Homo sapiens: one gene and its partner. The protein of the gene in region 1 interacts with the protein of each later gene in a pairwise test. Each region holds a gene or a part of one and is shown on either strand. Other genes may lie near its edges.

The links. The genes of interacting proteins can lie anywhere in the genome.
Region 2: the proteins of RNF125 (region 1) and PNMA6A interact in a two-hybrid assay, tested with the Homo sapiens proteins (one large-scale study listed by BioGRID).

The regions. Positions count from the first base shown.
Region 1 is NC_000018.10:32,021,825-32,025,324, reverse strand, and holds part of RNF125 (E3 ubiquitin-protein ligase RNF125), read right to left. Parts: intron 1-3,500. UniProt on the Homo sapiens protein: E3 ubiquitin-protein ligase that mediates ubiquitination and subsequent proteasomal degradation of target proteins, such as RIGI, MAVS/IPS1, IFIH1/MDA5, JAK1 and p53/TP53.
Region 2 is NC_000023.11:153,071,289-153,075,253, forward strand, and holds PNMA6A (paraneoplastic antigen-like protein 6A), read left to right. Parts: upstream 1-1,165; 5' UTR 1,166-1,318; intron 1,319-1,646; 5' UTR 1,647-1,774; coding exon 1,775-2,974; 3' UTR 2,975-3,731; downstream 3,732-3,965.

The DNA of each region.
Region 1 (3,500 bases):
CTCATGTCTAAAGTTCTGCTCTCCTGCATTAAACTTCCTAATCTCTCTGGCTTTTGGATACTGGTGTGTGCATGTGATATATGTTGTGTCTACATGTATATATATGTTTACACATGAGTTTGTATAGTCTGTAGTACCAAACTGACTTCTAAATAAATGAGTACTCACAAATTAACTATCCCAAATGTTTTTCGAAGTTCATATGACTTTAGTAATCTTTGGTAAATCAAGCTAGGTTTTTTTGTTTGTTTTTGTTTTTTTGAGAACGACTCTCAATCTGTCACCCAGGCTGGAGTGCAGTGGTGCGATCTCAGCTCACTGCAACCTCTGCCTCCTAGGTTCAAGCGATTCTCCCACCTCAGCCTCCATGTGCGCCACCATGCCCGGCTAATTTTTTAGTATTTTCAGTAGGGACAAGGTTTCGCCATGTTGACCAGGCTGGTTTCCAACTCCTGGGCTCAAGTGATCCGCCTGCCTCGGCCTCCCAAAGTGCTGGGATTATAGGTGTGAGCCACTGTGCCCAGCAATAAAGCTAGTTTTAAATTGTTAGTTGGCTGGGTGTGGTGGCTCATGCCTGTAATCCCAGCAGTTTGGGAGTGCTCATGCCTGTAATCCCAGCTCTTTGAGAGGCTAAGGCAGGAGGATCACTTGAGCCTAGGAATTCAAGATTGGCCTGGGCAACATAGGCAGACCCTGTCTCTATAAAAAAATAAAATTTTAGCAGGGTGTGGTGGGGCATGCCTGTTGTTCCAGCTACTCAGGAGGTTGAGGTAGGAGGATTGCTTGAGCCCAGGAATTTGAGGTTGCAGTAGGCTATGATCACATCACTGAGTAGTTTGTTCTTAGATCATATCTCTAAAAACAAACAAATAAAACTACTAGAAATAAGACAAACAATTCTTCAGGCAGAATATACCAAAAAAGCAAGATATGTTCTTGGAGAGAAAGGTTGTAAGAATGGCATGAGGCCGGGTGTGGTGGTGCACGCCTGTAATCCCAGCTACTCAGGAGGCTGAGGCAGGAGAACCTGGGAGGCAGAGGTTGCAATGAGCCAAGATCATGCCACTGCACGCCAGCCTGGGTGACACAGTGAGACTCCATCTTAAAAAAAAAAAGAAAAAAAAAAAAAAAAGAATGGCATGAAGTGTGATTTTTTTGTTAATGGAAAACGAATTGTGTCTAGTTTAGAAGTTATTTGAAGCTTGTTTCAAATTGAAAGAATAAAAAAAGATATAGATAAAACTAAATGAATATAGAAAGTTGGAAATAGAAGAAAAATCGTAAGAGGTTATAAAAGATATGTAAATCTTGTGTGGTCAAAGCTGACTGAAATTGGATGGACTTGTTTATTAGGTTTTATTTAAATTTATTATTGATATACTGATTCAAAAGTAAAATATGGTTTTCTCTTTTGAACAAGACTTTTGTGTAGTAGAGATGGGGTCTCACTATGTTGCCCAGGCTAGTCACAAACTGCTGGTCTCAAGCCATCCTCCTGCATCGGCCTTCCAAAGTCCTGGGATTACAGGCATGAGCCACTGCACCTGGCCAAGTATACTTTTGTGAGCAAAATAATTTACCTTTTTCTCTTTGGATTCACAAACTGGGTTTTGAGTATTCCTATTTCATGGCAATATAGTTACATGCATAAGTTCAGTAACAGTCTGAACAGGACATAATTGGAGACAGTGGTTATTTTAGCAAGGCTTTAACTGGAATGTCATACTTAGATACATGATCAAACTGTTTTGAGGGACTGAAATTGACATTAAAAAGCCAACAGACTTAGAAAAAGATTGGCCTGGTACCCTGTGTATATGGTTCCCTTACAAAATCCTGACCTTGCGGTATGTAAAGAATTGTCACTTTCTTGGCTGGGTGCAGTGGCTCACTCCTGTAATTCCAGCACTTTGGGAGGCCGAGGCAGGCAAATCACCTGAGCTCAGGGGTTCAAGACCAGCCTGGGCAAAATGGCGAAACCCTGCCTCTACAAAAAATACAAAAACTAGCCAGGTGTGGTGGTGCATGTCTGTAATCCCAGCTACTAGAGTGGCTGAGGCGGGACAGTCACTTGAACCTGGGAGGCAGAGGTTGCAGCGAGCTGAGATCACGCCACTGCCCTCCAGCCTAGGTGACAGAGTGAGACTCCATCTCAAAATAAACAAATAAGTGAAAAATAGCCAGGCATGGTGGCAGGCACTTATAGTCCCAGCTACGTGAGAGGCTGAGGCAGGAGGATTGCTGAGCCCAGGAGGTGGAGGCTGCAGTGAGCCATGATTGCACCACTACACTGCAGCCTGGGTGGCAGAGTGAGATCTCACCGCTAAAAATAAATAAATAAATAATAAAAATAAAGGAAATGTTTAATGTTTTAAAAATTAAGCTTTAAATGGGGGACTAAAGGAAACTGAAAATATTTCACCCCAAAATGTACTTCTTTGATATATTCCCACAGGAATAACCCTGAAAAGCTGCCTTTTGTGGAGGAGACTTGCATCTGTAGAGAAAATCTACACTGGTGAAATAAACAACCAGGCTTTCTTGGAGGCACCCCCTTATCTGTACCTAGGAAATTATTAACTGAAAGTCTGACACCTACGAAGGTCTGACAGAGCAACTTAACACAGGCTCATGCCTATTCTTTCTAGGAGCTGCTATCTATGAAGTTTCATCTGCATAACTAGACCATCTTTGCCCCAGCCCCTTCTTTCTTTCTCCCTCCCATAACCATGTTCCAAGCCCCTACTCTGCTGTAACCTCAAGATGGTATAAAAGCATCAAGCATCTGGCCCTTTCTCTCAGTTTTCATATTTTGTATGACTCCCATGCCCATATGCTCATTAATACATTTGTAAGCTTTTCCCCCCTTGTTAATCTATTAGCAGTTTGTTTCATAGACTCAAATGATCAAAACTTTAGGGGAAAAAAATCAAATTCAAATTTCCCTAAAGTGGTCACACATCTGGCTAGTGGCAGAGGTGAATTTCAAATCCAGCTCTCTGTAAGGGCCAGTTACTACTGCATCACAATACAACTTATAAAGTGCTCTTACATATTCATTCAAGGTACTGTTGTTATTATTAAACTTGTTTGACTTGAAATAGGTTTACAAACAAAAATCAGCATAAACCACCTAGTTCAACATGTCTGAAAATGTAGCTTCAATATGGGATAATAAAATACAGAAGGTTCATTTGCATTTATTCGTTTTCCAACTTAATTTCAATGGAAAAGAGTAATTCATTTAGAATGTACAAATGGTATTAACGCTCACAATCTCTACTGCAGAAAGGACTCTGGTTAACATTTATAAAGTGGAAGGGGACCAAGTAAGTTTGCCAAAAGGAGGAATATGGAAATTCTGCCCACAGCCAGAACAATGGACATAGATTTGTCAAAACAAAGAACAGTAAAGAGAGGAAAGGCAATTTGTTCAGCCCTTGTAATGCTATTTTATGACTATTTTTCCAGTTGCTAGTTTCCTATTCACTTTAACAAAG
Region 2 (3,965 bases), on another chromosome or scaffold:
GTTTGCCACCTGCCTGGTGGAGATGCTGTTCACATGGCCCCAGCCTCCCATGATGGGTCAGGTGCAGGGTGGTCAGATCCACGGGCGCAGAATCTCTGTTTTGAGCGGAGGCTGCTCTGCCCTGGCGCAGTGTCTAGCCCCGGCAACAGAGGACTGGGGAAGGACCTATGGAAGGCTGACTCAGGCCCTGACAGACGGAGGTCTCCAGGGAGGTACGACACCCATGCTGCCCTCAGGGCCAAGAGAGCAATGTCCCAGAGCCCATCAGGCTGGTGAGGGCACAGGGGGCAGGGGACAAATTGAGTAGCCCACTCCGCGCGGACTACCTTTCCAGGCACACACTCAGGCAGAGACCCAGACTCGGGACTTGCGGCTGCAAAACGGACGAGGCCCGGGCATACTTGGGTGCTGGGTCACCCTCCTAGGTGCTGGCTCCTGGCACCAGGGCAGCAAAGTGCTTCGGCCGGAGGGCTGCGGGTCCCTGAAGCCGGATGGGCAGCGGGGAGATGGCAGACCCTCCGTAGGATGGTGTGCGTGAGCTGCGTGAGCGCCTGGGGCATCTCCTCCACGGAATGGCACCCGCACCAGGTGCCCCTGGCCTCGCCTGGCCTTGCCAGCCAGAGGACCAGTCCTGGACGGGGAGGGGGAGGACAAGAGCAGGTGCACAGGCCCCAGAACCCGGCTCCCTGACCCTGGCCAGAACGCAGAGCTGCCGGACGCACCTCAGACCACTCCCTGGCCCTCTGGTGGGCACGCCGGGGTGCACACCCGTCGCCCCGCTGGCGCCTGCCTCCGGGGCACGTGCGGGAGGGGCAGAGGCCTGGACCAGGAACCGCTGTGGTGAGAGCCAAAGGCGCTGGGACCTGCGGCCCACAGACCTTTGGACACCCCGGTGGGGGTGGGGGTGGGCTGGCGCCTGTGTTCCCGGGACCCGCGGCGCGAGGGGAGTGGGGGTGGGGCTAGGGGATAGGAGCAGGTGACGTCACCCGGGGTCCTGGGGCGCTCGGGAAGGCGGCGAGAGCCAGGCCACGTGACCCGCCCGCGGCAACGGCCCTGCGCTCTCCCGGGCCGGCGACGCGGAGGGGTCCGCGCTGCACCGCCGCCGCACCCCGGCCGCGTGACCGCACTGCAGAGAGCGGCTGCGAGCAGGCGCCTGCGCACCGGCCCAAACGCCGAGCGAGCGAGGGAGAGGCACAGTCAGAGGGAACGCCCGCGCGGGGAGCCAGGGGCGCCCGACCCCGCCGCCGCCGCAGCGGCGCGCAGCCCCCGACGCGCCCTGTGGGGACCCGGACCAGGAGGGACCCTGCCCCGGGAAAAGGTATCAGACCCACCCGGGGAGGGGGACGCTGGGTCCCGGGAGACTCCGCCGCCCCTCGCCTGTCCGCCCTAACAGAACTGAAGCAGCCTGCGGGGCAGCGGTCCGGGGTCCGGGGTCCGGGGTCCGGGGTCCGGGGGCGGCGCGGGGATGAGGCCAAGACCCGCAGGGACCACCCCCCCGGGGGGGCGGGGCGGGACAGGGGCGGGGCCTGGCTGCAGAGGCGCGGCCAGGGGAGGAGGGCGGCTGGGGGTGGGAGTGGACGTGGACGTGGACGTGGGCGTGGGGAGGGGTGGGCATTAACCTCGCTCTCGCCCGCTCGCATTCACAGGCTGTGGAGACCTGGGCTCCGACCCCAGTTCATCCCCCCACACCCCCGCCGCCCCGTGCCACCCTGGTCCGCGCTGGGAACCCTATCCTGCCCCTCGTGTCAGCCCGGCACTGGCCAGAATCGCGGGCATGGCGGTGACCATGCTGCAGGACTGGTGCCGGTGGATGGGGGTCAACGCTCGCAGGGGCCTGCTCATCCTGGGCATCCCGGAGGACTGTGATGATGCCGAATTCCAAGAGTCCCTCGAGGCTGCCCTGAGGCCTATGGGACACTTTACAGTGCTAGGCAAAGCGTTTCGAGAGGAGGATAATGCCACCGCGGCCCTGGTCGAGCTCGACCGGGAAGTCAACTATGCTTTGGTCCCCAGGGAAATCCCCGGCACTGGGGGCCCGTGGAACGTGGTCTTTGTGCCCCGTTGCTCAGGCGAGGAGTTTCTCGGTCTCGGTCGCGTGTTCCACTTCCCGGAGCAAGAGGGGCAGATGGTGGAGAGCGTGGCCGGCGCCCTGGGTGTGGGGCTGCGCAGGGTGTGCTGGCTGCGATCCATCGGTCAGGCGGTCCAGCCCTGGGTGGAGGCCGTGAGGTGCCAGAGCCTGGGCGTGTTTTCCGGGAGGGACCAGCCAGCCCCAGGGGAGGAGTCCTTTGAGGTCTGGCTAGACCACACCACCGAAATGCTGCATGTGTGGCAGGGGGTCTCGGAAAGGGAGAGGAGGAGGAGGCTGCTGGAAGGCTTGCGTGGGACCGCCCTGCAGCTCGTGCACGCGCTCCTGGCGGAGAACCCCGCCAGGACGGCGCAGGACTGTCTGGCGGCCCTGGCCCAGGTGTTTGGAGACAACGAGTCCCAGGCGACCATCCGGGTGAAGTGTCTGACCGCTCAGCAGCAGTCAGGCGAGCGTCTCTCAGCTTTCGTGTTGCGGCTGGAAGTGCTGCTGCAGAAGGCCATGGAGAAGGAGGCCCTGGCCAGAGCATCCGCCGACCGCGTGCGCCTGAGGCAGATGCTCACCAGGGCCCACCTTACTGAGCCTCTGGATGAAGCACTGAGGAAGCTGAGAATGGCCGGGAGGTCTCCAAGTTTCTTGGAGATGCTGGGGCTCGTTCGGGAGTCTGAGGCATGGGAGGCCAGTCTAGCCAGGAGCGTGAGAGCCCAGACACAGGAAGGGGCCGGTGCCCGGGCTGGTGCCCAGGCTGTTGCCAGAGCCAGCACTAAAGTAGAGGCGGTCCCAGGAGGTCCTGGTCGGGAGCCAGAGGGCCTCCTCCAGGCAGGAGGCCAGGAGGCTGAGGAGCTCCTCCAGGAGGGGCTCAAGCCCGTCCTGGAGGAATGTGATAACTAGGTTGGGGCTGGGGAGGCAGCCCAGCGCGAGTCCTCCCCGGGCAAATAGGCTCCGAGGGCCCCGGGGCCTCCTCTCCTCCTCTCAGGCAGCAGGGCCCTGGAGACAGGCGGAGGCGGGGCCAGGGCCGGTCCCTCACCCCACATCGGGATCGGGGCCCCCCACTTCCCCCCAAGGGGCCCTGCCCACCACCACCTTCCCGGTGACCCAGATGACCACATTTAATACCAAATGGGGTGGGGGGAGGCGCCCCTCCAGTGCCAGGGGCACGTGCTGTGAGCTTCCTGGGAGCCCAGGTTGTGCTCACTGCTCTCCCGTATCGTGAGCACCACCTCTGCTTTCCCTGCGTAGATCTAGGCCAGGGGCTGCTTGTTTTTGTGGAGCCGTGTGTGTTCTTCTCTGAGCAGCTCCTCCCCAGAGGACCCCAGCGCAGTCCCGGGAGATGGCGGAAAGAAGGCACCAGGGCACAGTGGACACTCATCCCGTGACAGCGATGGTGACCATGACTGTGGGAGAAAGAACAGGACCCGGGATGGAGTGGGGCTGTCTGAGTTTCCCCAGTGAACTTTGTGCTTTGGCGTTCCACCCCTGTTGTTACTTGTTACTGAGTTTCCTAGACCTGGGGTGGGTGTTCCCCCAGGAGGAGGGGGGTCCCGACCTGTGTCCTGTGGTGGCCATTTGCAGCTTCTGTGTTGTGATTCCCTTCTCTTCAACGGTTTCAGTACATATCTCTCTTCAATAAATTTCATTCAGTGTTCCAGCCGGCCTCGCCTCTGCTGTGGGAAACTGCATGGGGTGCGGGGTGCGGGGTGCAGTGTTGGCTGGGGACAAGGTGAGGTGAGGTGCCACAGTGGCTGGGCTAACATCGGGGTGTGTGGGGTGCTTGGTCCCTGAGGGTCTGTGTGGTCCCCTGGGCTGCACGGGATGGCGTGGTAGTCTTGAGCAGGGGCTGATTGGGTTCCCAGGGCACGCTGATCACCTCCCAGGAGTAGGT